4 separate regions of the Homo sapiens genome follow, and regions 1, 2 and 4 are each reported to be linked to region 3. The links are microRNA targets in miRTarBase. Many come from high-throughput screens and were not tested one by one. Region 3 holds a microRNA gene; each other region holds the end of a gene's coding sequence.
The links. The annotated mature microRNA hsa-miR-103a-2-5p reads AGCUUCUUUACAGUGCUGCCUUG and lies in region 3 at 3,552-3,574, shown strand. An mRNA with a match to its seed (bases 2 to 7 or 8) in the 3' UTR can be bound and repressed. Matches are read on the target gene's strand: a 7mer-m8 pairs with bases 2 to 8, a 7mer-A1 pairs with bases 2 to 7 and ends in A, and an 8mer does both.

Region 1: the mRNA of HOMER2 is a reported target of hsa-miR-103a-2-5p. The part of its 3' UTR that is shown has no 7-base or 8-base seed match.
Region 2: miRTarBase lists TRIM10 as a target of hsa-miR-103a-2-5p. Seed matches in the 3' UTR shown: 8mer at 5,241-5,248.
Region 4: the mRNA of RETSAT is a reported target of hsa-miR-103a-2-5p. The part of its 3' UTR that is shown has no 7-base or 8-base seed match.

Annotation. Positions count from the first base shown.
Region 1 is chr15:82,843,780-82,851,666 of GRCh38, forward strand. It overlaps HOMER2 (homer scaffold protein 2), which reads right to left. Exons shown (of 9, transcript NM_004839.4): 8 at 7,372-7,452; 9 at 5,204-6,124. The coding sequence ends at 5,936. Among named protein-coding and RNA genes, the nearest start is that of WHAMM, 38 kb to the left of the region's middle. RefSeq lists an enhancer at 6,022-6,797.
Region 2 is chr6:30,148,003-30,155,889 of GRCh38, forward strand. TRIM10 (tripartite motif containing 10) reads right to left here. Exons shown (of 7, transcript NM_006778.4): 6 at 7,725-7,757; 7 at 3,941-6,484. The coding sequence ends at 5,967. It overlaps TRIM40 (tripartite motif containing 40), which reads left to right. Exons shown (of 6, transcript NM_001286633.2): 6 at 1-726. Among named protein-coding and RNA genes, the nearest start is that of TRIM10, 9.3 kb to the right of the region's middle.
Region 3 is chr20:3,913,953-3,921,839 of GRCh38, forward strand. MIR103A2 (microRNA 103a-2) reads left to right here and starts at 3,542; the gene lies at 3,542-3,619. It overlaps PANK2 (pantothenate kinase 2), which reads left to right. Exons shown (of 7, transcript NM_001386393.1): 5 at 2,975-3,098; 6 at 4,719-4,844. It overlaps MIR103B2 (microRNA 103b-2), which reads right to left and starts at 3,611; the gene lies at 3,550-3,611.
Region 4 is chr2:85,336,395-85,343,815 of GRCh38, reverse strand. RETSAT (retinol saturase) reads left to right here. Exons shown (of 11, transcript NM_017750.4): 10 at 18-177; 11 at 435-1,861. The coding sequence ends at 574. It also overlaps the pseudogene PEBP1P2. Among named protein-coding and RNA genes, the nearest start is that of TGOLN2, 12 kb to the right of the region's middle.

The sequences.
Region 1 (7,887 bases), not on the chromosome of region 3:
AGTATAATTGGGTCTGTCTTTCTGGAAGGCAATTTGAGGCAATACATATTACAAGTCCTAAAAATGTGCATTCTTTTTTATTGTTGCAACAGGATATGTTATGCTGCAGTTAACCAATTAACCCTGAAACCCCAGTGTTTAACACCTAAGGTTTATTTTTTTTATTCATGCTACCCGTCCATGCAGGGTGGCAGGTGAGGGTAACATGAAGGGAGAAGGGGGCTGCTCCACGTAGTCACTCAGGGATCCAGGCTTGACAGAGGCTCTGTCCCTGGGACATCAGCATTTGCTGAGGGAAGGGAAGGCAGACACTGCGGAACTGCTCATGGGCATTTCAGTGTCTGTCTGGAGCTTCATGTGTCACCTGTGCTCACATTTCATTGGCCAGAATTAGTCATAGGACCCTGAATGAGTACAAGGGGGATGGAGGGTGAAGTCCTGTATGCCTCAGAAGGAAAGGAGCCGCAGATAGGGAGGCGCGTACTTTTGAGCCAGTGATAACTTCAGAAAATTACCCTAAGTCAATATTCTGAAAAGTTCGCAAGGATGTTAGAAGAACTTCATTATGTCCTTGACTACAACAGTAAAAAAATTGGAAACAACCTAAGTATCCAAGGTACAACCTACATAGAGGTTAAAAATAATGTAATTACATATTTACTGATATAGAAATCTATTCACAATATAGCATTAAAAGGGATAAAAGTTATAAAACAGTATGTATAATATGATTATATTTCATGGAAAAAGTAATAAAACACACACAGATGCATAGAAAAAAGTCTGAAAAGATAAAAACTGAAATGTTAACAGTGGTTATAATCAGATAGTGTAATAACAGGTGATTGGTTTTTTTCCCACTCATCTGGAATTTCTTTAAAAAAAGTATTATATTATTTATGTACCAAGAAAGCATTTAAAAAGGGAAACAAAAAACAGTACTCTTGGGAGAGTTCACTTATCCACTCCACTCTTCTCATTAAACTCTTATATTTGATGCAAGGAATGTCTTCTTGCCTGTCACATCATAAGACGCTGCTCTCACAACTGACGTAAAGTCGGGACTTCCTATTAAAAGCAGTACAAGAGGGTAAAAACAATAGCACAGCCTCACAGCTGTGAATCATCAGTCCTGCCCATCACTCGCCAAAACATGCACCACTTGGGACTCTGCCGTGGTTTACGGGCTCCTGCCAGGTGCCCTGGGGGTCTCTAGGGCCCAGGAGAACACTTTGCCGCAAGGCTCTGCACCGTCAAAGAGAGTAGGGCACTGAACAATTCCACTTCAAACAAAAGATCCACAAACTTCTGGTAAATGGATTCCAGAACATAGATCACCACCACCAGAAATAGAAAATAAAGTCTCCTCTTAGGTATACATATTTTTAATTAAAAACGCTTCCTTACTGTTTCTCCCACTTCCCCTTTTGCTGTTTCTTCACACACACACACACACACACACACACACACACACACACACACGCGTGCGCACATACACAGTCGTAAGTTCACTAGAACATTTCATCCAGCTCAAAATTCTTACCAAAGCCACCTTCCTGCCTGGGTAGTGTTTAAAGCCAACTAGAAAACCCATATTCTTGAGATCGGTACATGGAAGAGGCATGTAAGTAACATTTTCTAGACTAGACAGGAGTCCCTCTCCATGCCAAAACCCCCATCATCTCCAGAATATATACTGTTTCTTTGGGGAAGCCATGTACTCAGAAATTAGGGTCCTTTTAAAGCATGCATATCTTTAAAAATATACATGGACATTGATCTTGCAAGCTTCTAGTTTGCAAGTGCTTCAAAATCTAGTGATGTCTCAAGGCAATGAAAGAATTTAGCTTCTAGAAGGATGAATGGAACAAACAATCCACTTCTGGATATTAGCAAAGACCAGTGGCTGCCTCTTTTGAGTGCCTGTGCTAAGTCACATCACGTCTGCCTTCTTCCCAAAGGTGCACCTGGCCACATGTGAGGTCCCACCATAACGTCCCCAGCGCGTCCTGTGGTTGGCTCTCATCCAAAATTGTCCCTGGTTTCTATAGAGAAGGAGACTTTTCTAAAGAAAAAGAGCCCTGTTAAAATAGGCAGAGCATGATGTTTCTGGGAGGCATATTCACTGTATTACGCTCCACCCTTTACTTGATGTTTTGCATCAAATGTAGTCCACAGCAGGCAGGCGCCTGCCCACCACCATCAAGGCTGTGCTCATGGAGCCTGCAGGCTGGAGACCAACTGCCCTCTGTGCACAGTCTTCCTGGGTGTTGATCAGGTCCCGTTCAAGCTGCTCCCACCACTGAGCAAGGCTGCTCCCTCCCCAGAAAGCCAGAAAGGAGTGCATCTCCAGGAAGGGGCGGGCAGTGGACAGGCCACCCCCAGCCAGAACTCTGTTTCCATTCCTGCGATCTCAGGGCCTCCCACTTGTTTTGAACATACTGCTCTGCCTCCACTAAAGCCATCAATAAAGAACTCAGGGTGTGTTTGTTTTCCATAGAACTGGCCTCACAGGCAGAGACATCATTTTAACCAACTTTCTTGGAAAGATTCCTGCAAAACCAGAATCATTCCAAAGTGGAACTTATCATTTATAACAAACATTCCTAAATGTCATTCGGATTCACATTTTTGTAAACTGTCCTTTGCTGTGGACACATATTGAAATAATATAATTGTAATATGCTCTTATCAGGATATAAGAATTATTTTCTCTTGGCACCCACGGGTCACCAAAGGGACTAGAGTGGCATGTCTCAAAAGATACTGCATCAAGGTCCAGGAGACCTGGATGCAGAGTCCACGCTGCTGGTCACCGCTGGGTGACCCTGGGCGTGTCACTTTCTCTGTCTCTACTTCCCATCTGCAAAATGCAGGTGACAGTCTCTGCCCTGTTCTCTCACCCAATTAAAGTCTAATGTGATGGCAGGCAGGAGAGATGAAACTGAGGGGCCACACAAGTTCGAGGTCTTGTGTGGATACTGGTTCTCTTTCCCTCCAAGGCCTGACCATACTGTCCCAACCTGTTGCTCTGGTGGTTTTACATTCCCCGGGCGGCACTAGGAAGGCTTCCTCGCCACTCCCAACTTTAAAATGCATCCAGCTGGGTCTTGACTGGAATGAAAGGTTATTTTTAAAGGTCCTCTTGGTTAAAGGGTTCCAAGTTTTAGTTGATCTTTTTTAGACACCAGGTTTCATGGAGGCAGAAGGAAAGCTTATCAAGGTATAGCAGCCAGTCTTGGAAACACCAAAATCAGGAGACCTCAATTGCAAACTGAAAATGCAGTCCTGGCCCTGCAGCTTCCAGGCAGCACAAGCGGCTGCGATGCTCACGAGTGAATGGCTTACATTCTGCCTGAGTCTGGCGTAAGGTTATGACAACAGTACTGAGACTGGGCTGGATGTCAGAATAAACGAGGGCACGTCACACCAGCTCAAGGGAACACCGTCCAGGTTGCTCCAGGGCCACTATTTTAAAAGAAAGTAAATGAAAAGACACTGAGATCTTCAGAGAAAAGCAGAAGGAATGGAAAGTTCAGTGCTTTTGTAAAAGCTGTTGTGCTTTCACGGCCAAGCCCAACTTACCTTTCCCTTTAAGGGAGTCCTTACTACTCTTAGCTCCAGGGTTGCAACAGCTGTAGAGCTGGACACACAGCAGGAGGAATCCAAGTTCCTCACCTGCTGCCCACAGGATGCTCACCACACTCTTCAGTGCTTGGTGAACTGGGATCATGGGTCTCAACTGCACAGCAGCCCACTGTGGAAATGGCTCTTCCAACATTTTCTACACCTCCACTTCTGGAGTTTTCTAAAGTCACTGCTATCAGAATGTACAAGTGGCTTCAGTAACTATTCTATGCATGTCACCTGAGCATTCTCTTGTCAGTCAAGCGGGCTCTTTCTAGATTCATAAGTCACCTGATAAAGGCAGAGGTCATCTGAAGACCCCAGCGGAAGGTGTTTGGAACCCAGTGTCCACTGCTCCCAGGCAGCCACACACCCAGCCTGCTGCTGGGCAGACCAGGCTGGCTTGAGAATCCCCTTATCCCGCTGCTGGGCCACGGGGCTGACTCATAGCCAGCTCGGCTCTCTGGTCTCCTGGTGCAGCCAGGAGGGAGCTGCTACCAACTGTCCTGAGAGCCGTCTGGAGCTCTGGGGAAAGGGAAGGGCCAGCAGCAGACTACCCCGAATCACAAAGATGGCTGGCCACGCTTTCCACTTCCTGTCTGCCAAAAGCCCTATGTACTCAACCAAAGCCCCCACTCACCTTGCGGGAGCTCCTCTAAAAGTGCCTTGGTGCTCCAGATGCCCAGCCTTCCCTTCCATCCACATCCCAAACAAGACTCCCCAGCTCAGAGAGGCGTCTCCGTGAGGGGAAGGGAAGGAGAGCAGGAGGACTCGTGTTCACCTTGGGGCCCAGGGCACCTGGGTTCGGACCCCATCTCCCTCCTTCCTCGGGTTGTTTGCTCATTAATCCAAATTCAGCAGGGAGAAAGTCTAACCACGTCCATGGGAGAAGGTTTCTAGAAGGAGTAGTCCTCTTAGGTGGTTCTCAAAGGGGTGAGGGGGCACCAAAGCCTCCCCCCTGCTCAAGGCATTTAGAGATGTGTGGGGCCAGGGATTCAAGCCATTATTGCCACACACGGGCAATCTCCCAGGGCAGGATGCCAACAGCACCCACAGGCCCGCTGGCCCCACTGAGCAGCTCTGTGAGAGAGGAGAGGTTTATGGCTGCAGTCCCTTCCCTAGGAGAAACTGAAAAAGGCAGGACGCAGAGCTGGGTGGAACACCTCTGTCATGAGGGCCAAGGCTTGTCAGCTGAGCTGCTCTCTCCCCCCGAAATGCCTGTGATTTCTTCCCAGCTGTCCAGACCCATAAGACAATCCTACCCTAGGTACCAAGCCCTGGGCAGCCCCTATACCTGGAATCCCTGGGTCACCATTCCTAGGGGAGAAGGTGATTCGAGGGTCTGGAGAGCCCCAGGGGCAGAGCATCACGGATGGGCTCCAGGGGCCTGAGACCAGCTCCTGCTGCTTCCCCTTCTCCCTCCCTGCCCCAGGGCCACCCGAGCCCCAGCTTGGGTTTGACCAGACAGTGGTATTCATGTCTGTTAACTACCCAGCACAGCAAAGATGGTGCATCATTCGACAGGGTCCCAGCTCTGCTGTGGGGTTTGATTAAAACACTAAATTCTGTGTACACATTTAATTGAACAAATATTTATTAAGCACCTACTTTGTGCCAGACATTGTGCTAGGCACCCTCACTGTGTGCTGTTCCCACAGCACAATCATCTGCTCAGAAATTAAAACCAAGAAAAGGAACACTGTTGCAACCGTACAAACTGGGGGGGCGGGGGGCAGGGGGCAGTAGCGTGGATGCAGGCAACTCCGGGCCAGAAAATGCACCCACCAGAAGCTTGTTTTCCATCTCTCAGAAAGTTTCCACTAAACAGTTGTTTTAAAGCCTCTCGATGTTGACAGAGAGGAATGTTGTTCTCTCTGTGCCCCCCGGGGCTGGTGTCTGGTGGACATTCAAATACTCTGAATGCTATTTGATAAAAGGAGCCTGATGGCTTGGTGTAAAGAATATCAATATTTGGATTACAAAATGCGTGTTTTTTCAGTTCATATGGTTGCAACAGCCCTTATGAAAGATATAAACATCCCTGCCCTGACTGCATAAATGTTGAAGGTAGACCTAGTTCTGGATTCCTGAGTCAGAATCTTCCAGTTGTCCACAACCTCACAAGGCCAGAGAAGCGAGAGGAGATTTCTATTCTGAAAAGGAGTGAGTGGACGGCACAACTGGTTTGGAAACACGACAAACTGCGCCTGCATTTACAGAAGCAATGCACACAGAAGAACGTCCTAGAGCTATCTGGTCTCGCACACACGCTTGGGACTCACGGGCGGGGCCTGGGCCTCGGCCAGCCCTAGTTATCGGTGCCCAGCTTGGAGAGCCCTCGGCGGAAGTCATGCAGGTCGTCAATCTTCCCGTCCAGCACCTCCAGGAAGCTCTTCAACTCCACCTTCAGGTGGCGCTGTCGGTATTTGCTCTCCTCAATGTCTGTCTTTAAGGAACGCACTTTGTCTTCCAGGTTTTGATTGTCTCTCTCTGCCGCCTGGCCAAGCAAAAGGGAGAAGGGTCTAGAAAACTGAGTGACGAGAGTCATCCTTCAAAACCTGCTACAGCTGAACCAACCATTCTCCATCCAATCTGAGGGCCTGGGCCAGGGCTTAAGCTGCCTAGAGACATGCTACCCCAGCACACAAGCCTGTGACCAAGACATCAGAAGGGAAGCAGCAGGCACTTCAGTGACCTCCTCCTTTCCTGCCTGCTCTCCCACAGAGGGACCAACACCCAGCCTGAAAACCCAAGACCCAACAAAGCAGGCAGAACGCAGAGTCCTGCCTGAGGGAGACCTCACACAGGGCCCAGCAGGGAAAGTCTGAAATCCCTGTCTGAGTGGCTAGCAGAGACCACATTTCAGTTCCATCCTGAGAGACAGAACAGATGGGAGAGTGGCTCGTTCCCCTGGTCCCACAGAGAGGCGTGGCCTCCTCAGCCCCAGGCCAGCCTCTGGCCCTCAGAGAGGAAGGACTGGCCATGCCAATGACTCAGGGACAGCCAGTCTGTGCACCCTCTGATGCTGTTACCATGGAGATGTTCTGTGGCGCTGGGCCCCACAAGCCTACAGAGGCACATCTAGGTAAATCACAAGCAGGTTCCCAAAGACAGGACAGCTGTGAGTCCTTAAATGAGCCATAAGCCTTTAACTCTTCATATCAAATAAGAGCTTTATGTTGAGGGAATAAACAGAGACCTTTCTGAACATGTGCACAGGAAGCAGTTACCAATTCCAGGGTCATGTAACTACATGAAGCGCCGTGTGCATATCAGAGGACCTGCAGGGAAGAGGCGCTCCGAGGTGGAGGAAGCCCTGAAAATCCTCATTTTAGTGATCAGAAATCTGAGGATAGGGAGGAAGGCCTGCCCAAGGTCAGTGCCCAAGGCCACTGGCAGGGGAGTGGCTGAAGTGGCCCCACACCCTGACCCTGGGCTCTCAGGCCGCCCCCCCGCTCCTCACCCCCACCAGGGATCTGCAAGGAAACAGTCGTCTACACTGTGGTGATGCACAGGGGCCTTCATAGAACTTGCAAAACCAAAAGACAAACGTTGCTGAGTCTGCCCCGGGGGCAGGGGTGGATGCGGTGCCATCTGGCGTGCAGTCACTGCCAGCTTTTTGTGAATAGAAAATCTCTCCTTCAGCATTCTCAGTGTGAAAGTGATAGGAAGCAGGAAAATGAGTACCATGACATTTGTGCCTTCTTGTCTGAGCCAGGATGGCTGTGCCCCCAACCCACGTACCTCTAGCTTCTCAGAGACATATTCGCACTCTGACATGAGCTGAGGTATGATTTCACTTTGTTTTCGGAGATCTTTCAGCTCCTACATGAAAAAAATTTGAGATAGAACATGAAAGCAAGTCAGATAAAATATATTCTTGAAAATCACCAATGTGTGCACGCTCGTGGAAGCAGCTTTGGGACCCTGTCCTGTTTGCATAGACAGTGATAGTGACCATGCGAATACTTCATCTCAGGGAATTTCAAGGGTGAAGTGTGTCACACGCCTTGTCACGTGAAGTCTGTACACACCACCACAAGGCAGATGTTTTTCCGATTTCTGTTTTATAAGTGGAGAAAGTGAGGCCTAGGGAGTTTGGTAACATGAGCACGGCCTCCAACATGTGTGCACTTAACTGTCTGCCCCCTAGAAAATAAATGACTGTAGGCCAGGCATGGTGGCAGTGAGTGCAGGTGGCTGGCGCCGGGAGCTGGGCTGCGGTGTGGTGGGCACGTGTGTGTGGTGCTCTCATGGCGT
Region 2 (7,887 bases), not on the chromosome of region 3:
CAGCCTCCTTCCAGGACAGGCTCATGCTTGGGGCTGCCACTGTGGAGGTCGGGGCCCATGGTCTCCAGGAGCATTTGTGAAATCTCCATTTTGCCTGTAAACTGATGGTAGTGCCCATCTCTCACAATCTCATTCAAATAGGATCCTCCAGGCCTCTGAATGGCCCGAGCTCATCAGCAGTGACACCACCTCACATGTGGAGCCCAGCTGAGTTCCTGCAGTACTTGTTGTCTGTACCACTCACCTGGCACTTATTTATTATTGTTGTGGAAGACAGACTCAAAGACAGCCTCCCTTCATGATCCTCACCTCTTGGAATTCATGCCCTTGTTTGGTCCCCTCCCCTTGAGTGTAAGTGGGATCTGTGACTTGCTTCTAATGAATGGAATAAGGCAAAGGTGATAGGGTGTCACTCTGGCAACTGTGTTGCATTGTATAGAACTCCTCCTTGCTGGCCCACCCTTTTAGAGCCCCTCCTAGGAGCCAAGAGCAGCTTCCAGCCAACAACAAGCAGAGGCCCTCAGTCTTGTGGCTGCAAGAACCTGAATTCTGCCAACAACCCGAGTGAGCTTGGAAGCAGATTCTTCCCCAACTGAGCCGGATAAGAACCTAGTCCAGCCAACACCTTGATTATAGTCTTGTGAGTACCTAAGCTGAGGACCCAGTGAAGCTGTGCCAAAATTTCCCACCCACAGAAACAGTGTGACAATAAATGTGTGTGTGTTTTTTTGTTTTCTGTTTTCGTTTTTGAGATGGAGTCTCACTCTGTTGCCCAGGCTGGAATGCGGTGGTGTGATGTCGGCTCACTGTAACCTCTGTCTCCTAGGTTCAAGCAATTCTCCTGCCTCAGCCTCCCTAATAGCTAGGGATTATAGGCGCCCGCCACCACACCCGGCTAATTTTTTGTGTTTTTAGTAGAGACAGGGTTTAACCATGTTGGCCAGGCTGGCCTTGAACTTCTGACCTCAGGTGATCAGCCCACCTTGGCCTCCCAAAATGCTGGGATTACAGGTGTGAGCCACCGCGCCTGGCCATGTGTTGTTATAAGGCAGTAAATTTGTGGTAATTTTTGTGGAGTAATGGATAATGAATACAATTGTATATTAGTCATTTTTGTATAAGCCTCACTTCTTTGGGTGAGCAGGGATCATATTCTGTCTGTGTCCTCATGTCTAGAACAGTGTCTGGCTCATAGCTGGTGTCCAGTAAAATTTTAAATGTATGTATAAGTGAACTAATAAGAAAGCATAAGGAAGGGCTCTTCTCAATCCTCTGATTAAAAAGAGCCATCAATTACCTTATAATCAGTATTTATTGAGCCTTTGCCAAAGTAGTCAATACCATACTGAGAGGTATAAGGAATAAAACATGGCCACAATTATAAAACAAGCCACGTGGTGGTGCAAAGAGTGAAAACTACAGGGTCAGACTTGAGTTTAGGTCTCGGTCCTGACACCTAATGCCTCTGTAACCTTGGGCAAATTACTTAGCCTCTCTGAACCTCTGTACTCCCCCCTCTAAAATAAGGGTTATGGTACCTGTGGCCTGGGATTGTTGTCAAAATTAAATACATGCTGAGTGTCTGCTAAAGTGTCTAAAACGTAAACATTCAAATATGTTCATTTTATCTTTTTTTTTTTTTTGGTGTATTCTGGCTTTATTGTTATTTTTTTTTAATTATACTTTAAGTTCTAGGGTACATGTGCACAATGTGCAGGTTTGTTACATATGTATACATGTGCCATGTTGGTGTGCTGCACCCATTAACTTGTCATTTACATTGGGTATTTCTCCTAATGCTATCCCTCCCCCCTCCCCCCACCCCAAAACAGGCCCTGGTGTGTGATGTTCCCCACCCTGTGTCCAAGTGATCTCATTGTTCAATTCCCACCAATGAGTGAGAACATGCGGTGTTTGGTTTTCTGTCCTTGCGATAGTTTGCTGAGAATGATGGTTTCCAGCTTCAACCATGTCCCTAAAAAGGACATGAACTCATCCTTTTTCATTTCATCTTTTTTTAAAAAAACCACTTCCCCTTTTGAAATGAAATATGGAATGATAAAAAAATTTTAAATAAATTCCACTTCACCATCCAGAAGTTTATAATTTAGCTGTGGAACTATGACTAAACAGCTACAGAATAAGAAGAGAGCGTGTAACTGCACTGAATTAGGTATCACAGAGGCTAAGTGCCCTGGGAATTCAGAGGAAAGAAACAGCGAGCCTGGGAAAGTCAGGGTAGGTTTTGTGGGGGAGGTGGGGATTGGACAAGTGGGAGAGGAAGGTGAGAACATTCTAGGTCACAATAACCACATGAATGAAAGCATAGAGGTAGGAAAAAGCCACGGTACCTTTGTAGGAGTGTGAGGAAACCAACCTGGTTAGGCTGGAATGTTCAGGAATGGGGAAGACGAGAAGTCAACAGGCTAAATGGATGACACCAAGACATAGTGAGGTTTCTGAGTCAGGAATGAAGGGAGAAGTGGTGTTTAATGAAAGCCAGTCTGGATCGTTTGCACAAGAAGGACTGGGACAGAGAGTTGGGGGCTGGAAGGAGAGGGGAGGAGAAAGAGCCTAGTGCAGATGTTCAGAAAAAAGGTATAGTTATTTGGCAAGAAGCTGCAGATCTCAGAGAAACATAAGATCCCAAATCTAAGAGCAAGACATTAGCCAAGGAAAGAACACCCCTGAAAGTGACAGCTAGCAATTTCTGCATCCCAGATGGAGTTAATGTCACCAAGAGAACTTGTACTAGGAGTAGGAGGAGACTGACAGCCCCCAGGGTCTCTCCTCAGGAGAGAATTCAGTTATACTGAAGATGCCTTCCAGGCCCCCCTTGGTCCCTTCTGACGTCACCACAGATGATCAGGCCAGGGGTGGGAGTCTGAACAGCAGATAATTGGCCAAACAAGTCTATGAGGTCACCTGTCAAGGAAGACCTTATCAAAGAGGGACAATAGTAATTAACTGAAACCATCAGGTCCTCTCGGAGATTCAGAAGGGATCCATGATGAATGTGTCATTAGTTGGCAAGAAGAGCAGACACAGAGAGAATCAGAGATGCATGTGCAGCCACGATGTATTGGAACAGGTGTCCATGACCCATGCTGCTGAGAGGCCGCAGGAATATCCAGTCTTCACGCTTCTTTGGACTTCGAGCCCACTTCTTACCGGTAGGTCCTGGGCATACAACATACCACTGCATAATGGTCATGAGCACAGACTCGGGAGCCAAACCACAAGACTTCAAATGCTGGCTCTGCGACTTACTATCAGCTGATTTGAGACCAGCTGCTCGGCCTCCACATGTCTCAGTTCTCTTATGTACAAGATGGGCACCTACCTCCTGAGGTTGTTGTGAGGATTAAATGAGTTAATATATACAAATATTTATTATGGTGTTTGGCCAAAATAAGTTCTATGTGTGTGATTGTTATCAGCATTTTTGGAATCTCTAGTTCTTCCTACAGGAACGAGTGGTGACCCCACCAACTCGCTCACGCCTGACATAGCTTCTCACGGGGCCTGGCTCATGGTGGAAAATCGCATTTTCCTTATTTCTGCTTTTATAATAAACTTACCTATCATTTGAACTAACTTGAGTGGGTCTCAGTTCTTTGCAATAGAAAGGGTTGCTACCATGTAAGCTTTGAAAAATGAGGTGTAAACTGTGGATGTTACAAATGTGCAACAGTCCTTCAGAGTCGGAAAGGGTAGCTGGGACTCTGGGGCCTCTAGACTTGAGCACTTCCTGGGGAGGGAACCCAGAGTCCCACTTCCGGCCAGCAGAGCAAGGAGGTTCATTAAGCTGCCTTATCTTGAAGTTACCAGGTTTTAGGATCTATCCACTTCCCCTGTGCTGACTCCATACTCCGAAAGCAAGTAAACTTCAAGTAAAATTACCCTAGGGGAGAAGCAGGTACTGACAGACCAACATGAGTGTTTTCACTTATGAGCAGTTTTATTTCTCAGTGTAAGACATATAAATTGTTCTCACTGACATATAACTATTAAAAGAAAAATAAAATAAAACAATTTAAAAAGAAGAAATATAAATTGTATTTCTGAATCCAAGTCACCTGTGGGGGTGTAGCCAGCATTAAAATAATCGCCAGGACCCATGCAGGCATCTATCTCTGAATGAGGCAGTGCAGCATAGCAGTTAAGAGCTCTTGGGTCAGACATGGATGAACTGGTTGCATGATCTTGGCTCGTTACCAAGATAAAGTGACACAAGGTGTGTAAAGCTCCCGAGCTGCAAGCCAGGATCTTCATACACATACATTTTAGAGGATAATAGTCCTTTCAAAAGACACAGCTAAAGCCAATAAAAATAAACAAAAATAGGATCTACTTTTCTGGAATCACAGGTTTGGGTGCTTTGGATATGTTTTATCATTATATAGGCACTTGTGTGTGTCTGTATTTTTTTGAATATACAACATTTTAATGAGATACTGCACACTCCCAGGGAAAGCAATTCAATCTCTAATCCCTGGCTTCTGATCTCCACCTCTTTTCTACCTGCTGAGGTAAGGATGAACAACAGAACTTCTCAATTGAATTCTAAGCTTGGGCCTAAGCACGCTGTGCCCTCTGCCTTTGAGTTTGCACCCTGGATGGCTCCCCTCCTCCCAGGAGACCCAGTAGGGAGATGACAGAGCATTGTAGTTTACACTGAGCAGAGTAAACAGATGATGTTAAGGAGACTGTCAGTGAAGGGCATGATTATGCAAAATAAAATACAATAGTGACAAGAACAAGAAAATAAAACATGGTCACTCTTCCATCCCATTTCTCAGATGTCACTACAGTAGTCTCAATTACGGTAGTCTCAATTCTTTAGACTAAAGTTCATAGGTCATCCAACTTATGCCCTGGCCTCCTTCTGGAATTCTTTTACCTAGCAGTTTCTGAGCCCACAGCTGAGCTATTTGTGACCCATTTGCTCCCACTATCTCATTTCTTGACCTCAGATGGTAATCAACTGATCAGGAAGACAATTTCCCTAGGGTTGAGTGTGGTCCCTGGGTTATGATTTATGGCTATACCTTATGTCCTCCTGCCCCCAGGCCCTGCACCTTAATCTCACCCAGAAGTGGCAACACCAGGAGGAAGGAGGCAGTGAGTGGCGTCGGCTGGGGATGGCACACATCTGCCCATAATGACAATGGAGACAACCCAGTGCTCCAGAGTCACAGGTCATCCAGCCAGTTCTCTGCTGTTTCCTCTTCTTAAGATGCTTCTTCCCCTCTTTTCCCTATTGACCATAGGCATCCTTTAGACCACCCTTTTCAGAAAGCCATCCCCCACTCACCCTCTCCTTCCAGGCTGGGCTATGCCCCTTCCCCTGAACTCCCATAATGCTGGGGTTGGACTTCCCGTAACACCCACCACACTGTGCTGTAATTTCCTCTTTATGTTTCTCTGTCTTCCCAAGAGCTCTTTCAGATATAGAGCAGGTTTTTTTTTTCTCTATATTTTCAAGTCACCAGTGGCCACCACACTGCTTGGTTCATAGTTAACACAAACTAAATGGTTCTAGAGAATGTGATTACATGAACTCTAACATTATTGGAAGAAAACAAGATGAAAAGAGGTGAGATGCCTTGTTTAAAGTCATACAACTGGTTGACAGGCTGGTTCAAGAACCCAGGTCTTCTGACTTCAAATCCAGTGCCCTTTCTATGCAGCTACTTCTGTGCCAAGCACGGATGGTGGTGAGCAGAACTGGCAGCAGCCTGAGTCCCCAGGTACCCTGGCCATCCACTGGGCATTGGGGAAAGGACTTGATCAGTAGATTGAGAGTCCTCTCTTCTATCCCTTACCACCCGGCCCCATCCCATCTTCTAAAGCAGTCATTTCTATTCCAAGTCATCCAGGTGATTCAGCCAGGGATCAAGTCCACATGGTACTTGGGTTGATATGAGTCCTGTACTTAGAGGAGAGTAGGTAACTGCTCCTTCTCAGGAGCTCAGGGAGAAACTGGACCCTCGGCCCCAGAGCCCAAAGAAGGGAATGACCTTCCTAGTGAAGGAGGCAGTGAAGGTGTAGATGGGCTCTCGGGTGACAGCGTTGGTGAAGGTCACCCAGCCCACCTCATAGTCAAGAGACACCCTCACCTGCCGGGGCTGCTCCTTCAGGGTCAGCCGTGTGGGGAAGGAGCCCAGAGCCGAGACGAAGCCCCAAGCCAGCCTCACAGCCCACACCCCCTCCTCTGGCCGCAGCCGAAGCTCCCCCTTCCGCTGCACATCCTCGCTCACCACGCCCACGGTGCAGCTGCCCCCATGGGCCAGGTCTATACTCACCACCCACGTGTGTCTCCCCCCTGTGATGCCAGTGTGGGCCAGAACACAGGTGGCCCGGTCAAAACGTTGGGGGTTGTCTGGTGAGTTCTGCCATTTGTAGGAGAACTGAGCTCGCTGGTGGTCCTCGGACAAGAGGAGCTTGGGGTGGGAAGTCTGAGGGTCTAGAGAAATGTGAGCTGTGGGGATAACCAAAAGGGACAGATGTCAGCAGACATGCTATTACCTCCAAGGAAGGCATAGAAACTCCCCCTGGGCCCCTCCTGTTAGTGTTATTATTACCAAAAACATGTATAGTGCCTACGTGGGCCAACAGTGTGGAACCACCTGGGAACTTGTTAGATATACGCTCTCAGAATCTGCATCCTAACAAGATGCCCAGGTGATTTGCACACAGGTAAAGCCTGAAAAGCCTGCCTCAGAGGATGTGAAAGCTCTCGTTTAGTTCAGTGTGGTCCTCGGGAAAGCTCTTCTGCTCACCGCAAGTTGGCTGGTTTCCAAAGCTGTGCGTGCCAGCTTGGATCTCCTGGGGCTGATATACCACATTCTCCCCTCCTCCCATCTCTATCCCACAGTGCAGCGACATTTCTCCCTTCAGTCCAAACTTCATGATTCCTCCCTGTTTTCCTCCCAGGGCACTGGTGACTCATTTACAGTCTTCCCTCCTGGCAGGCTCTCTGGCTCACCCCTGGGTTATTCACTCTGCCTCAGTAATTCTGAAACTGTCAGAGTCTGAGGACCACTTTTTACCACCAAAAACTGCTGCAGAGCCTTGCGTTTTGTTACTTTTAGTATTCATAAATTGAGAAGCTTCCATAAATTTAGGTCCATCTGTGGGTTAGAGAACCCCCTCCAACAACTCCGTGACTCCCAGGGTCTTAGGCTGGTTGATTGAGAAATGACAGCCTTGAAGGGGTCCATTCTGTTCATTTTTTTCCCACCCACAGGCCGCCCTCCTTCTGTCATCTGTGAAATGACATCTGAGAGGAAGCAGGGGTTCCTTACGTTCTAAAGAGGTGATTATAAACCCAGATCAAAGTCCCCTTTATCCAGAAAGCATTCCCAGATGGACTTTATCCCATTCTGCATTAATCTTTCTATCTACTCGACATGCGCAGATCAGGATGTGAGCTTCATACCACGAATGTAGTATGTGTATGTGCTTGTCCTTTCTTCATGTTTCTCCTGAGAGCCTTACAAACAATGTGACACACACACACACACAACCTATATATACACACATGTATTATATACACACACATATGTGTATATATAATATATATGATGTGTATATGTATCCATGGGTGTTTGTTATGACTATTGTCATAGTCATAACATAGTCATAGTGCAAATCCTGCAAAATTTTCTCTCCTTTCCGAGGACTTCTCATTCTCTCCCATCCTGACATAGGCTCCTTACCTGGCTCATAGTCCAACTCAAAGCATAGTTTTTCTGTAAAGAAAATAAACCAGGATGAGATTTTATTAGTCTTACAAAACCATCAGACACTTAATGATGAGAAAACTGAGGCCAAGAAGAGGGAAGGGACAAGAAGAAGAATGTAAGCTGGAATCCTCTAGAC
Region 3 (7,887 bases):
TATTTTTTTTGTATTTTTAGCAGAGATGGGGTTTCACTATGTTGGCCAGGATGGTCTCGATCTGCTGACCTCATGATCCGCCCGCCTTGGCCTCCCAAAGTGCTGGGATTACAGGCGTGAGCCACTGCGCCTGGCCTGCACATATATTTCTAATTCTATTGGGTATATACCTGAGAGTAGAATTGCTGAGTCATATGGTCACTTAATGTTTAATCTTTTGAGGAACTGCTACACTGTTTTCCAAAGTGGCAGTCCCATTTTACAATCTTAGCAGTTTATGAGCGTTTATATTTCTTGTCAACATTTGTTATTATCTGTCTTCTTGGTTTTAGTTGTCTTAATAGGAGTGAAGTGATATCTTGTAGCGTTTTTATTTTTTAAGAGGCAGGGTCTCGCCCTGTTGCCCACATGAGAGTGCAGTGTTGCGATCATAACTGGCTGCAGCCTGTGTCTCCTGGGCTCAGGTGTTTCTCCTGCCTCAGTCTCCTGAGTCACTAGGACTACAGCTGTGCACTGCCTTGCCTAATTTTTTTTTTGTAGAGATAGGGTCTTGCTATGTTGCCTAGGCTGTCCTGGCCTCAAGTGATCCTCCCACCTTGGCTTCCCAACATGTTGGGATTACAGGTGTGAGCCATCACTCCTGGCTGAACATTTTTTTTGTGTGTGTGGCAGGGTCTCTCTCTGTTGCCCAGGCTGGAGTGCAGTGACACCATCTTATCTCACTGAAACCTCTACCTCCTGGGTTTTAGTGATTCTTCTGCTTCACCTCGCAAGTAGCTGGGATTACAGGCACACCTGTAAATTATGCCAACATGCCTGGCTAATTTCTGTAATTTTAGTAGAGATGGGGTTTGGCCATGTTGGCCAGGCTGGTCTCGAGCTCCTGACCTCAAGTGATCCACCCACCTTGGCCTCCCAAAGTGCTGGGATTACAGGTGTGAGCCACTGTGCCCAGCCCGAACATCTTTTCATGTGTTTACTGGCCATCTGTCTGTAGTCTTTGGATAAATGTCTGCTGAAGTCTATTGCTAAGTTTTTAGTTGGATTGTCTTTTTATTATTGAGTTCTGGATACAAGTCCCTTATTAGATACATAATTCGCAAATGTTTTGTCCCATTTTGTTAGTTGTCTTTTCACTTCCTTGATGGTGTCCTTTGCAGCATGGAAATTTTAAATTTTGATGAAGTTAATCTTATCTATCTTCTGTCACTTGTGCTTTTGGTGTTATGTGTAAGAAATCTAAGATCATGAAGAATTGCCTAATTTAAGATCATGAAGAATTGTTTATTTTCTTTTAAGAGTTTTATAGTTTTAGCTCATATATATATATGTGTGTGTGTGTATTTTTTTCTTTTTTTCTTTTTTGAGATGGAGTCTTGCTCTGTCACCAGGCTGGAGTGCAGTGGTGCGATCTCGGCTCACTGCAACCTCCACCTCCCGGGTTCAAGCGATTCTCCTGCCTCAGCCTCCTGAGTAGCTGGGACTACAGTGCGTGCCGCCACACCCAGCTAATTTTTGTATTTTTAGTAGAGACAGGGTTTCACCATATTGTCCAGGATGGTCTCGATCTCTTGACCTCGTGATCCGCCCACCTTGGCCTCCCAAAGTGCTGGGATTACAGGCGTGAGCCACCACGCCCGCCAGTTTTAGCTCTTATATTTAGCTCTTATATTTGATCCATTTTGAGTAAGTTTTTGTGTATGGTGTGAGGTAGAGCTCCAAGTTCATTTCTTTTTGCGTGTGGATATCCAGTTGTCCTAGTACCATTTGTTGAAAAGATGATTCTTTCCCTGTTAAATTCTCTTGGCCCCTTTGTCAAAAATTAGTTGACCATAGATGTTTGGGTTTACTCCTGGACTCTTAAGTTATGTTCCATTGATATATATGTCTGTTTTTATACCAGTACCATACTGCCTTGATACTGTAGCGTTGTATTAAGTTCTGAAGTAAGAAAGTGTGAGTCATCCAACTTGTTCTTTTTTCGAGATTATTTTGGCTATTCTGGGTACCTTGAGAATATGAATTGTAGGGTTAACTTGGCAAGGTCTGTAAATAAGACAACTGGGATTTTAATAGAGATTACATTGAATCTTTTGGCCATCCTAATACAAAGTCTTCTGATCCAAAAAGATGGAATGTCTTCCCATTGATTTAGATCTTTGCTTTCTTTCAGCAGTGTTTTGTAGATTTTATTGTACAGGTGTTAATACTTTTGTTAGATATATCCGTAAGTGTTTTATTCTCTAATGCTATTATAAATGAAATCATTGTCTCCATTTTGAGATCGTTTAGAAGTACAATTGTTTTTCGTATATTGGGGCACATGGCTTTTACTAATAGAAAAATCATATGTATACATGCTTGTTTACTAAGTTTTAGGCACTTGGTCAATGCTGTTGATTTTCTGTTTGTAACATTTGCTCGTTGGTCATCACTTCCTTTTCTGATTGGAAAATTATTGTAGCAGTTCTGCTGAGCATGTACTTTGAAGTACTTTATCTTCTAGGGAAACCTGAAATTCTTAAGCAGCTCACTCTGGGACTCAGCTGTCTGTGCTTTACTCTGCTCTGATAGAGCAGTTTACCAGATGTGCATGTGGCCATCTGAGTGGAACAGCTGTGCAGTTGAGATGAATTGCTGTTAGAGGTGTTGTCCTGGAACTGTCTGGTTGCAGGAGCAATGGTGCCTTCCAGTGCATCTGATGAGATTCTAACTGAATATGTGAATATCTGGTATCCAAGCTAGATTTCAGTAGAAACCGCAGGGAAAGCTGTCTGCTCATTTAGAATGTTGGAGGGCTCTGTTTGAAGTTTGCATTTCTCTTTGAACAGATGCTCCATTGCAAAATAAAAGGTTTGAAGATTTCAACAATGTTGCCCTAAAAGCTAATTTTATTTCAATAAAGTAACATTCAAGTTCTGTTGGGCTTTGTTGCTGTTGGTTTAGCAATGGGATTTTTTTTCCCCCATCACAGCTTTGGAAACATGATGAGCAAGGAGAAGCGAGAGGCTGTCAGTAAAGAGGACCTGGCCAGAGCGACTTTGATCACCATCACCAACAACATTGGCTCAATAGCAAGAATGTGTGCCCTTAATGAAGTAAGGGGACATGGATTTCTTTAATTGCTCTAAGGAAAATACTGAACTTAAGTGGGCCCCATCACGTCTGTTTTCTCAGAACAGTGCCTAAATGTAGTCATTTGGGGTGGGGTTTGTTTTAGCACGAAGTTAAAACTCTTCAAATACAGATTAATCTTCTTTTTTTTTTTTTTAAACTGAAGATAAACATTGCTACTTGTCTAGAGGTAAAATGACATCTTTTGAGGAGAAAGTAGAGGAAGAGTGGAAGGTAGCCAGTGTTCCAGATATTGGGGACTGTTGGGGGTGATGATGGATAACGATGCTGAATGTAGACTCCACACTCACTGCTGAGCTCTAGAGGCCCTAGGGAGGAATCCAGAGGAAGTCACGGAAGCTGGGAGAAGACTGAGCAGGCCGAGGGGTGCCCTCCTTGGCTCCCCCACCTCAGCAGAGCTGCGTCTTTGTGCTTTCAGCTTCTTTACAGTGCTGCCTTGTAGCATTCAGGTCAAGCAGCATTGTACAGGGCTATGAAAGAACCAAGAATGGGCTGCCCTTGGGAAAAGAGGATCTAGGATCCAGTTGGTGCAGCTTATGGCTTGTCCCTGTGTGTATAGTTGTTAAATTATTCTTTTATTTTTATTTTTAAGAAGTTATTCTTTAGATAATAATAGGCATGTAGCTTAAAAGGAAACCTCAAAAGACACAAAGGATTTGTCTCATTTTAAATTAAAAAAATACTGTATCAGCATCAAGTAATTAAACATTTGTTGGAATATCATAACTTCTTTTTTCTTTATTGTATGTTCCCTTTCCTGTGCTTACGTATTTTCAGAAATTTTAGTTGGTGTGCATACCACAATTTGTATTTTATACTTAAATATACATTTCATGGTTGTATATTTATTTGATCAAGTTCTTTTATATCAAATAACAGAGCTTGGCATTTGGTTGCTTGCTCATAACTCGGCAGTAAGCATTTTTAAGCATGAAGTTATTCTTTGGTTGAATTTTATTCTTGATATGGGGCTTAGGAGTGAGATTTCTGGTCTACAGAAATGATCATGCTCATGAATTTTGACATTTATCGTCATGATGCTTTGCACAAGGGCTGCACCAATTTAGATCATCTTTAGCGGTGAATGAGTGGATTAATTTTACTACAACTACTGATGGTGGTGGTGGAATTTCAGTTGCTTTTTTTTGCGAGGTTAATAGGTCTAAAATTTTACTTTTGTTTGATGACTAGTGGTTTGAATTTTTCGCTGCCTGTTATATTGCTTGTATACTTTGCCTGTTTGTGTCACTGTCCTTTTGGATTGGAGTCATACTGTTTTTTTTTGTTTATTTTAACTTATCTGTATAAAACATTGTATTCAAAACTAGTTATTGTTGGTCAGATTTAATACAAATGTTTTTCCTAATCTGTTTTCTTCTCCTGTGACATTATCTAGCATGCTTTGCAGTGGGTCCAGAGTTGTCTGGGGATCAAGTTTAAGTAGCCCTGGACCAACTGGACTAAATTTGATCAGCAGTCAAATTGTTGCTAAGAGCTATGCACATGGTGCTGTATTTGGGGTAGCTTTTATGAGAAAATAGAAATTAAGATGAAAACTAATTGCCTTTTTTTGGTGTGCTCAGAACATTAACCAGGTGGTATTTGTTGGAAATTTCTTGAGAATTAATACGATCGCCATGCGGCTTTTGGCATATGCTTTGGATTATTGGTCCAAGGGGCAGTTGAAAGCACTTTTTTCGGAACACGAGGTAAGCTGACTTGTTCGTTGTGGTATATTATGTACACAGAGGGCTTGTGGGTCACACTGTCATGGAACTTGAGGTAGAGGGTGGAGGTGAAATGGGCTGCAGTGTTTCTTTTGTTTTTTGTTTTTTTGAGACGGAGTCTCGCTCTGTCACCTAGGTTGGAGTGCGTGGCACAGTCTTGGGGCTCACTGCAGCCTCCGCCTCCTGGGTTCAAGCAGTCCTCCCACCTCAGTCTCTTAAGTAGCTGGGATTACAAGTGTGCGCCCCCACACCCTGCTAATTTTTGTACTTTCAGTAGAAATGGGGTTTCACCATGTTGGCCAAGCTGGTCTGGTCTCAAACTCCTGACCTTAAGTGATCTGCCAGCCTCAGCCTCCCAAAGTTCCAGGATTACAGGTGTGAACCACTGTGCCTGAACTTTTTTGGTAGTTTAATTTCGTAACATTTGAAAGCTGTTTCTTCCCTGATACTAATGCAAGGTAAATTTTGGGTTAATTTAATTGTAAGCTTAAGGAATTTTAGAGAAAAACCCTTGAACATTCCCCTATATTTCTGATGCCATATTTTTGTCTGAACTATCCTCTATATTTTTTCTATTGCACTGACTGTGTCATTACTCTGGGTTCTGGTTTTTTCATTTTTTTCAGTGCCAGTTTTTATATATTGTTGTAATTCTTGTGCCAGTTATTTAAGATGCATGTTGTAAAAATGAATAGATGAGTAAACCTCTCAGACTAGAACCATACTATCATAAGAACTTAAGTACAATTGTAGACAGGCTGGAAATGATGAAATGGAAAAGAATCAAATTGCTCAACCTCATAGCCTGTCTTGGAAAGCACTCTTATTTTTCCTATTTGGGGAAAAAGAAGCAGAGGTATGGAAAGGCGTGTAGGGGTTCTTTCTTCCCTTCTTGGTTGTGGGGCAGTTGAACTATTCTTTCAACTGTTCTTGGATTTTAGATACTGTTATTATGAACATTTTTCAGAATTGTATTGCATATTTAGTTTAACAGTCTATATGAATTAAAGGAAATCAAAGTCCAGATAATAGCACAGATTTGAAGTGCTAGAGATTACTTTTTCCTTTAAAGTTACTTTAAGTTTTTCTTTTTAAATTGCTTTAGTTCATAGTTGAAGTCCAAAGTACACAAATCCCCATATCAAAAAGCTTAAAATTGAAGTCATCTAACTTAGTTTTAAAATTCTAACATTACTGTATTTGTAAACCAGCACCGAATTGCCATTAAGTTTCTTACAGTTCATGTTTCTGTATACATCTTTTTTTGTGATCTGACTTATTTTATTTTGCTTTATATTAGAATTTTTTAAACTCGAATGTTAGATCTTTTTCTGCTTTATTTCTGCCTCTTGTTTAACCTTTTCCTAGGTAGAACATGGAGATTAGTTTTTTAAGTTAACCTTAAAAAAAAAATAGGCTGGGTGCGGTGGCTCACGTCTGTAATCCCAGCACTTTGGGAGGCTGAGATGGGCAGATCACCTAAGGTCAGGAGACCAGCCTGGCCAACCATGGTCAATGTGGCAAAACCCTGTCTCTACTAAAAATACAAAAATTAGCTGGGCGCAATGGCGGGCGCCTATAATCCCCAGCTACTCGGGAGGCTGAGACAGGAGAATCTCTTGAATCTGGGAGGCGGAGGTTGCAGTGAGCTGAGATCGCACCACTGTACTACAGCCTGGGCAACAGAACGAGACTCTGTCTCAAAAACAAAAACAAACAACAACAACAAAACAAACAAAAACACCAAACAGGCCAGGTGCAGCGGCTCACGCCTGTAATCCCAGCACTTTGGGAGGCCGAGGTGGGCGGATCATGAGGTCAGGAGTTCAAGACCAGCCTGACCAACATGGAGAAGCCCTGTCTCTACAAAAAATACAAAAATTAGCTGGACGTGGTGGCACATACCTGTAATCCCAGCTACTTGGGAGGCTGAGGTGGGAAAATCTCTTGAACCCGGGAGGCAGAGGTTGCGGTGAGCCGAGATCGCACCACTGCACTCCAGCCTGGGCAACAAGAGCGAAACTCCATCTCAAAACAAAAAACAAAACACCAAACCGATATCATCATAATAGTTATAAGCCTTCGTGAAATTCTTGGTTGCATTTTGTCCTTATTGCTCGCTGACTTTGTTTTTCCCACTGCTTAGCTTTGCTGGTCCATTTGTCCCTGTGTTTTCCATTTGCATTCAGGCCTTTGACTCTTGTGTGCATCTCTGCCCTTGTGGAACTTTGATGATTATTTTATTTTATTTTTTTATTTAAGTTCTAGGATACATGTGCACAACGCGCAGGTTTGTTACATACGTATACATGTGCCATGTTGGTGTGCTGCACCCATTAACTCGTCATTTACATTAAGTATATCTCCTAATGCTATCCCTCCCCCCTCCCCCCACCCCATGGCAGGCCCTGGTGTGGGATGTTCCCCTTCCTGTGTCCAAGTGTTCTCATTGTTCAGTTCAGAACTTTGATTATTTTAGCCTCTCTGAGCCTTGAAATATTTTCTTGCCCTCACATTGAAGTCACTTTAACTTTTGTTGTGAAAGCTTCGTATAGATTCTCTCAAGCGTTTCCTCTTTGATCCTTTATTCTCATCTTAGCACGTTGTAGTTTATAACCACCTGTTTCTGTCTTGATAGTAGCATCCTAGTCTTCAGTGGACCCCCCCCATATATATATATAATGGTTAACTGTATCTTCTATATTTTTATTATAAAATAAAAGGTACAGAAAGCTGCCTAAAACAAACTGTATAGTGAACTATTAAGACAAACAGCCTTGCCTCTGTATTTCAGCTGTGCCTTGTCCTGTAGCTGCTGGCCGCCTCACATCACAGATTGGTGTGGCTGCCTTTATTTTATTTATACACACCAAAACCAAAGATGGTCAATATGCCTTTCTTTTTTTTGTTTTTTGAGATGGGGTCTTACTCTGTCAGCCAGGCTGGAGTGCAGTGGCGCAGTCTCGGCTCACTTTAACTTCTGCCTCCTGGGTTCAAGTGATTCTCTTGTCTAAGCCTCCTGAGT
Region 4 (7,421 bases), not on the chromosome of region 3:
ACCCTTTCTGCCCTCAGGTGGAGAGTGTGACTGCAGGATCCCCACTCACCAACCAGTTCTATCTGGCTGCTCCCCGAGGTGCCTGCTACGGGGCTGACCATGACCTGGGCCGCCTGCACCCTTGTGTGATGGCCTCCTTGAGGGCCCAGAGCCCCATCCCCAACCTCTATCTGACAGGTATACTCACTGCCCCATGTTGTCAGGACCTGAGACCCTGGGCCCCTGTCGCCCAACGTCCTCTGTTCCTGCCCTCAGGCCCTGCTGTCCCCTGCAGCCTCCCATCCCCTGAGCAGGGCTGCCTGGGCAGGCTGTGGCCCCTGTCTGATTGGAGCCAGCTCTGGGTGGCCCTCATGTGGAGGGAAGAGCACCAAGGCCCCACCCTCCCCTGGGCCTGCCTGGGTGCACGCTCAGGGGCCTCTGCTCTTGCCTCCTAGGCCAGGATATCTTCACCTGTGGACTGGTCGGGGCCCTGCAAGGTGCCCTGCTGTGCAGCAGCGCCATCCTGAAGCGGAACTTGTACTCAGACCTTAAGAATCTTGATTCTAGGATCCGGGCACAGAAGAAAAAGAATTAGTTCCATCAGGGAGGAGTCAGAGGAATTTGCCCAATGGCTGGGGCATCTCCCTTGACTTACCCATAATGTCTTTCTGCATTAGTTCCTTGCACGTATAAAGCACTCTAATTTGGTTCTGATGCCTGAAGAGAGGCCTAGTTTAAATCACAATTCCGAATCTGGGGCAATGGAATCACTGCTTCCAGCTGGGGCAGGTGAGATCTTTACGCCTTTTATAACATGCCATCCCTACTAATAGGATATTGACTTGGATAGCTTGATGTCTCATGACGAGCGGCGCTCTGCATCCCTCACCCATGCCTCCTAACTCAGTGATCAAAGCGAATATTCCATCTGTGGATAGAACCCCTGGCAGTGTTGTCAGCTCAACCTGGTGGGTTCAGTTCTGTCCTGAGGCTTCTGCTCTCATTCATTTAGTGCTACGCTGCACAGTTCTACACTGTCAAGGGAAAAGGGAGACTAATGAGGCTTAACTCAAAACCTGGGCGTGGTTTTGGTTGCCATTCCATAGGTTTGGAGAGCTCTAGATCTCTTTTGTGCTGGGTTCAGTGGCTCTTCAGGGGACAGGAAATGCCTGTGTCTGGCCAGTGTGGTTCTGGAGCTTTGGGGTAACAGCAGGATCCATCAGTTAGTAGGGTGCATGTCAGATGATCATATCCAATTCATATGGAAGTCCCGGGTCTGTCTTCCTTATCATCGGGGTGGCAGCTGGTTCTCAATGTGCCAGCAGGGACTCAGTACCTGAGCCTCAATCAAGCCTTATCCACCAAATACACAGGGAAGGGTGATGCAGGGAAGGGTGACATCAGGAGTCAGGGCATGGACTGGTAAGATGAATACTTTGCTGGGCTGAAGCAGGCTGCAGGGCATTCCAGCCAAGGGCACAGCAGGGGACAGTGCAGGGAGGTGTGGGGTAAGGGAGGGAAGTCACATCAGAAAAGGGAAAGCCACGGAATGTGTGTGAAGCCCAGAAATGGCATTTGCAGTTAATTAGCACATGTGAGGGTTAGACAGGTAGGTGAATGCAAGCTCAAGGTTTGGAAAAATGACTTTTCAGTTATGTCTTTGGTATCAGACATACGAAAGGTCTCTTTGTAGTTCGTGTTAATGTAACATTAATAAATTTATTGATTCCATTGCTTTAACATTTGAAATTTATTTTGGTTTTTTGTTCAAGAAAACAAAACTATTATTGTGATGGCATTTGCAGAAGCTCAGTAAAACACTATATACTGAATAACACCAAAATAAGCTTTAAAAAAATAAAATTAAGTAATTATAAAGTTACAAAAAGTGGGGTCTGCGCCTTCCCAGGCCAGTGTGCTGAGCTCTCCATGTCGCTGTTGCCGCCCGCACCTGGCCTACCGCGGCACTCCCGGCTGCATGCTCTGCTTGGCCTTGCCATGCCGGTGGACCTCAGCAAGTGGTCCGGGCCCTTGAGCCTGCGAGAAATGGACGAGCGGTCACAGCACCTGCTGCATGTCACCTACGCCCGGGCGGTGGTGGACGAGCTGGGCAAAGTGCTGACGCCCACCCAGGTTAAGAATAGACCCACCAGCATTTAGTGGGATGGTCTTGATTCAGGGAAGCTCTACACCTTGGTCCTGACAGACCCTGATGCTCCCAGCAGGAAGGATCCCAAATACAGAGAATGGCATCATTTCCTGGTGGTCAACATGAAGGGCAATGACATCAGCAGTGACACACTCCTCTCCGATTATGTGGGCTCGGGGCCTCCCAAGGGCACAGGTCTCCACCGCTATGTCTGGCTGGTTTATGAGCAGGACAGGCCACTAAAGTGTGACGAGCCCATCCTCAGCAACCGATCTGGAGACCACCGTGGCAAATTTGAGGTGGTGTCCTTCCGTAAAAAGTACGAGCTCGGGGCCCCGGTGGCTGGCACGTGTTACCAGGCTGAGTGGGACGACTATGTGCCCAAACTGTACGAGCAACTCTCTGGGAACTAGTGGGTTAGCTTGGGGACCTGAACTGTTCTGGAGGCCCCAAGCCATGTTCCCCAGTTCAGTGTTGCATGTATAATAGGTTTCTCCTCTTCCTGCCCCCCTTGGCACAGGTGAGACCTGACCAGTCAGATGGTGGTTGAGGGTGACTTTTCCTGCTGCCTGGCCTTTATAATTTTACTCACTCACTCTGATTTATGTTTTGATCAAATTTGAACTTCATTTTGGGGGATATTTTGGTACTGTGATGGGGTCATCAAATTGTTAATCTGAAAATAGCAACCCAGAATGTAAAAAAGAAAAAACTAGGGGGAAAAAACCAGGTCTACAGTGATAGAGCAAAGCATCAAAGAATCTTTAAGGAAGGTTTTAAAAAAAAAAAGATTGGTTGCCTCTGCCTTTGTGATCCTGAGTCCAGAATGGTACACAATGTGTTTTTATGGTGATGTCACTCACCTAGACAACCAGAGGCTGGCATTGAGGCTAACCCCCAACACGGTGCATCTCAGATGCCTCAATAGGCATCAGTATGTCGCTCTGGTCCCTTTAAAGAGCAATCCTGGAAGAAGCAGGAGGGAGAGTGGCGCTGCTGTTGTTGGGACATGGCCATCTAGACCGGCAGCAGCGCTCGCTGACAGCTTGGGAGGAAACCTTAGATCGGTGTTTGTTAAACTGATCATTCTTCACGGGAGTAAGAAAAGCTGGTCTGGAGTTGCTGAACATTGCATTAATTGTGCTGTTTGCTTATAGTTGAATAAAAATAGAAACCTGAATGAAAAAAAAAGTTACAAAAAGTGGCCATCTACCGACTGGGCAAACAAAAAAGAACAGTTTCAACACTCAGTCATTTATTGCACATGGAGTCTGATGAATTAAAAGAATACCAATCAGAGTGTCCGGGGCTGGCGTGTTGGCAGTTTGAAGTACCATACAGCTCAGGGCTGGGTGCTTTGGCTCATGCCTGTAATCCCAGCACTCTGGGAGGCCAAGGCAGGTAGATTGCTTGAGCTCAGGAGTTCAAGACCAGTCTGAGCAACATGGCAAGACCCTGTCTCTATAGAAAGTCCCCACCCCACCCCCAGAAAAATTAGCTGGGCATGGTGGTGTGCCCCTGTAGTCCCAGCTATTCAGGAGGCTGAGGTGGGAGGATCACTTGAGCCCGGGAGGTGGAGGTTGCAGTGAGCCAAGATTGTGACACTGCACTCCAGCCTGAGCAAGAGAGTGGGACCCCGTCTCAAAACAAAACAAACAAAAAAGACCAAACATATAGCTCAGACCCAAACCCTTTACAGAGGAGTTTCTAAATTGGGAGATTTGGCTAAATACAATGGCTCATGTCTGTAATCCCAGTATTTTGGGAGGCTGAGGTGGGATGATTGTTTGAACCCAGGAGTTTGAGGCTGCAGTGAGCTGTGATCACTGCACTCCAGCCAGAGTGACAGAACGAGACCCTCCTCTAAAAAAACAAAACAAAACAAAACAAATAAACAAATTGGGAGATTTGGTAAATTCACACCTGACCTGTAGAACTACCTGAGTTGAGAGTCACCCTTGGCTCTGGATGTACCGTTTAATTGCAGCTAAAAATCTCTACCCAGGATTCCTACTGGAGCAAGTCACACCGAGCCCAACCTTCCTAGCAAGAGTTTTCACAGCGTTCTAGCTCTCATCACACTTGCAGCATTCTGCATCAGTTTACCCTGTACAGTCAAGCACAAAAGAAGACACCAGCATCACCAGCAGGGGAATTCTAGAGGTTTAGAATTCTATCAGCACATGTGTCACTAAAAGCCATTATGGGGGGACTATGTCAGAATATATGTAACTAGCTGTCAGGTCTTTCCCAGTTGCCTCAGCCTTTCTACATAGACTGGTCTTCGACTTGCCCTGAGTCCAGAAGTGGACTCTTACAGCAATTTTACTCAGGAATCTGTAGCAGGAAAACAGGTTCCTCTATTAACATCCATGACTGAACCACAGATTCGTCTAATAGAAATCACACTTCACCGGGCGTGGTGGCTCACGCCTGTAATCCCAGCACTTTGGGAGCCGGGGCAGGCAGACCACCTGAAGTCGGGAGTTCAAGACCAGCCTGACCAACATGGAGAAACCCCGTCTCTACTAAAAATGCAAAATTAGCCAGGCGTGGTGGTGCATGCCTGTAGTCCCAGCTACTCGGGAGGCTGAGGCTGGAGAATTGCTTGAACCAGGGAGGTTGTGGTGAGCTGAGATCGTGCCGTTGTGCTCCAGCCTGGGCAAGAGCGAAACTCCGTCTCAAAAAAAAAAAAAAAAAAAAAAAAAAATTCACCCTTCAACCAAAAGCTGGGCGCAGAAAGGGAAGCCCTTAGCTGACTATAGGAGGTGCCTCTTGTGGCTCCTCGTGCTTCTTACACACCACCCCTAGCTTGAGTGATGCCTCAGCCAGCTCACCCTCATCCACACAATCTCTAGGAAACATGCTTCGAATATTGTCTTTGAAAAGACAACCATGCAGAAAATAAGCTTTCCTTTAGTGTGCAGTATTTTATTCAGTGCAATTCTAAAGGCAAACTTGAATTCAAGTGTACTCTTTCTGCACAAGAAATGAAACTTCTCAGAGGTTCAAAAGCTGAGCTCTGCGGACTCCGTGACAAAATCTACACATCCACTGCCAACCCTCTTGGTTTCTGAAACCAACCTTTCTTCCTGCTGTCCTCTTTAAGAGCAAAACCCAACATGTATAAGGTCAGAGCAAGTGGTAGCCAGGAAAAGCTTGGGGACCTCTATCATATCCAGAGGGCATGAAGAAAGAAAACACGTCCTCTGCCAAAGGCAAAATGGAGTTTGTGAAGCAGGAGTGGTGGCTCATGCCTGTAATCTCAGCATTTTGGGAGGCCGAGGCGGCCAATCATCTGAGGTCAGGAGTTCGAGGCCAGCCTGGCCAACATGGCAAAACCTCGTGTGTGTGTAGAGATGGGGTCTTGCTATGTTTCCCAGGCTGATCTCAAACTCCTGGGCTCAAGCAATCCTCCTACCTGCAGACCTCCCTAAATGCTGGGATTACAAGTGTGAGCCATCATGCCTGGCCCCACAAAATGATTTTTAAAGTCAGTTAGAAATCAAACATACACTAGAAAGAAATACACTTGATGGAGAGATGGGAATCCTGACTCTGCTTCACACTGTTCTGTATTATTTTGCATTATTTACATGTAGTTTTTTTTCCCCCAAATTGAAAGAAAAGTTATAATGAAGAGGGGAAACTCCTTAAGGCTGATTATCTGAGAAGCTAGCAGTCCAGCGCTAAATTGTGAAGCTGACCTCTTGAGGTAGTTAACAAAGATGTTTCTCTTTATGTCTTTTTGCCAGTAGCACACTGCCCTAATTACTCCAGCTTTTTGGTGAGTTTTGAAACTGGGAAGTGTGAATTCTTCAGCTTTGTTCTTTTCCACGTCTGTTTTTGCTTTTGTATGCCTCTTGCATTTCCATATGTATTGTGGAATCTGCTTGTCGATTCTGCACCAAGCCAGCTGGAATCTTAATAGACACTGTGTTTAATAGAGACTGGGTGTAGACCAATTTGGGGAGCATAGCCATGTTAACAAAACTCTGTCTTCCAATCCATGAATATAGGCTATCTTTCCATTTCTTTAGGTCTTCTTTAATTTCTTTCAACGTTTTGTAGTTTTCACAACACAAATTTTGCAATTCTTTGGTTAAATTTATTTCTATGGATTTTTTTATACTATTCACAAATGCAATTATTTCTTATTTCATTTTCAGATTGTCCATTGCAAAGTTATAGAAATATAGTTGATTTCTGTATGTTGATCTCAAAGGATGTGGAGAAAATAAACAATGGAAAACAAGGAGATAGTGTCCCAGAAGATAAGTGACCTGACTAGGTATAGCACTAAAGGCCTGCAAGGCAAACATTTTACATAAGGTTTTCTTTTGGCTTTTTTTTTGAGACGAAGTCTCACTCTGTTGCCTAAGCTGGAGGGCAGCGGCGAGATCACGGCTCACTACAACCTCCACCTCCTGGGTTCAAGTGATTCTCCTGCCTCAGCCTCCCAAGTAGCTGGGAATACAGGCGCACACCACCATGCCCGGCTAATTTCTGTATTTTTAGTAGAGACGGGGTTTCACTATTTTGGCCAGGCTGGTCTTGAACTCCTGACCTCGCGATCCTCCCGCCTTGGCCTCCCAAAGTGCTGGGATTACAGGTGTGAGCCACTGTGCCTGGCCTGTTTTGTTTTTTTTTAGACAGAATCTCGCCCTGTTGCCCAGGCTGGAGGGCAGTGGCAGGATCTTGGCTCACTGCAGCCTCTGCCTCCTGGGTTCAAGCGATTCTTGTGTCTCAGCCTCCAGAGTAGCTGGGATTACAGGCACCTGCCACCATGCCCGGCTAATTTTTGTATTTTTAGCAGAGACGGGGTTTCACCATGTTGGCCAGGCTGGTCTCGAACTCCTGACCTCAAGTGATCCACTGCCTCGGCCTCCCAAAGTGCTGGGATTACAGGTGTGAGCCACTGTGCCCAGCCAACATATGGGTTTATAACTTGCTTTATTTTTGGTTAACAATCATATGCACATATTACTATAGGAAAGGAGGACCAACAAAATATTCATGATAATAGCTCTGGATTAAGAATATTTTTCTGGCCAGGTGTGGTGGCTCATATGTGTAATTGCAGCACTTTGGGAGGCTGAGGTGGGAGGATTGCTTGAGCCCAGGAGTTCAAGACCAGCCTGGGCAACATAGTTCAAGACCAGCCTGGGCAATAGTCTGTCTCTACAAAAAGTTTAAAAATTAGCTAGGTGTGGTGGCATGCACCTGTAGTCCCAGCTACTTGGGAGGCTGAGGTGGGAGGATTACCTGAGCCTGGGAGGTCAAGGCTGCAGTG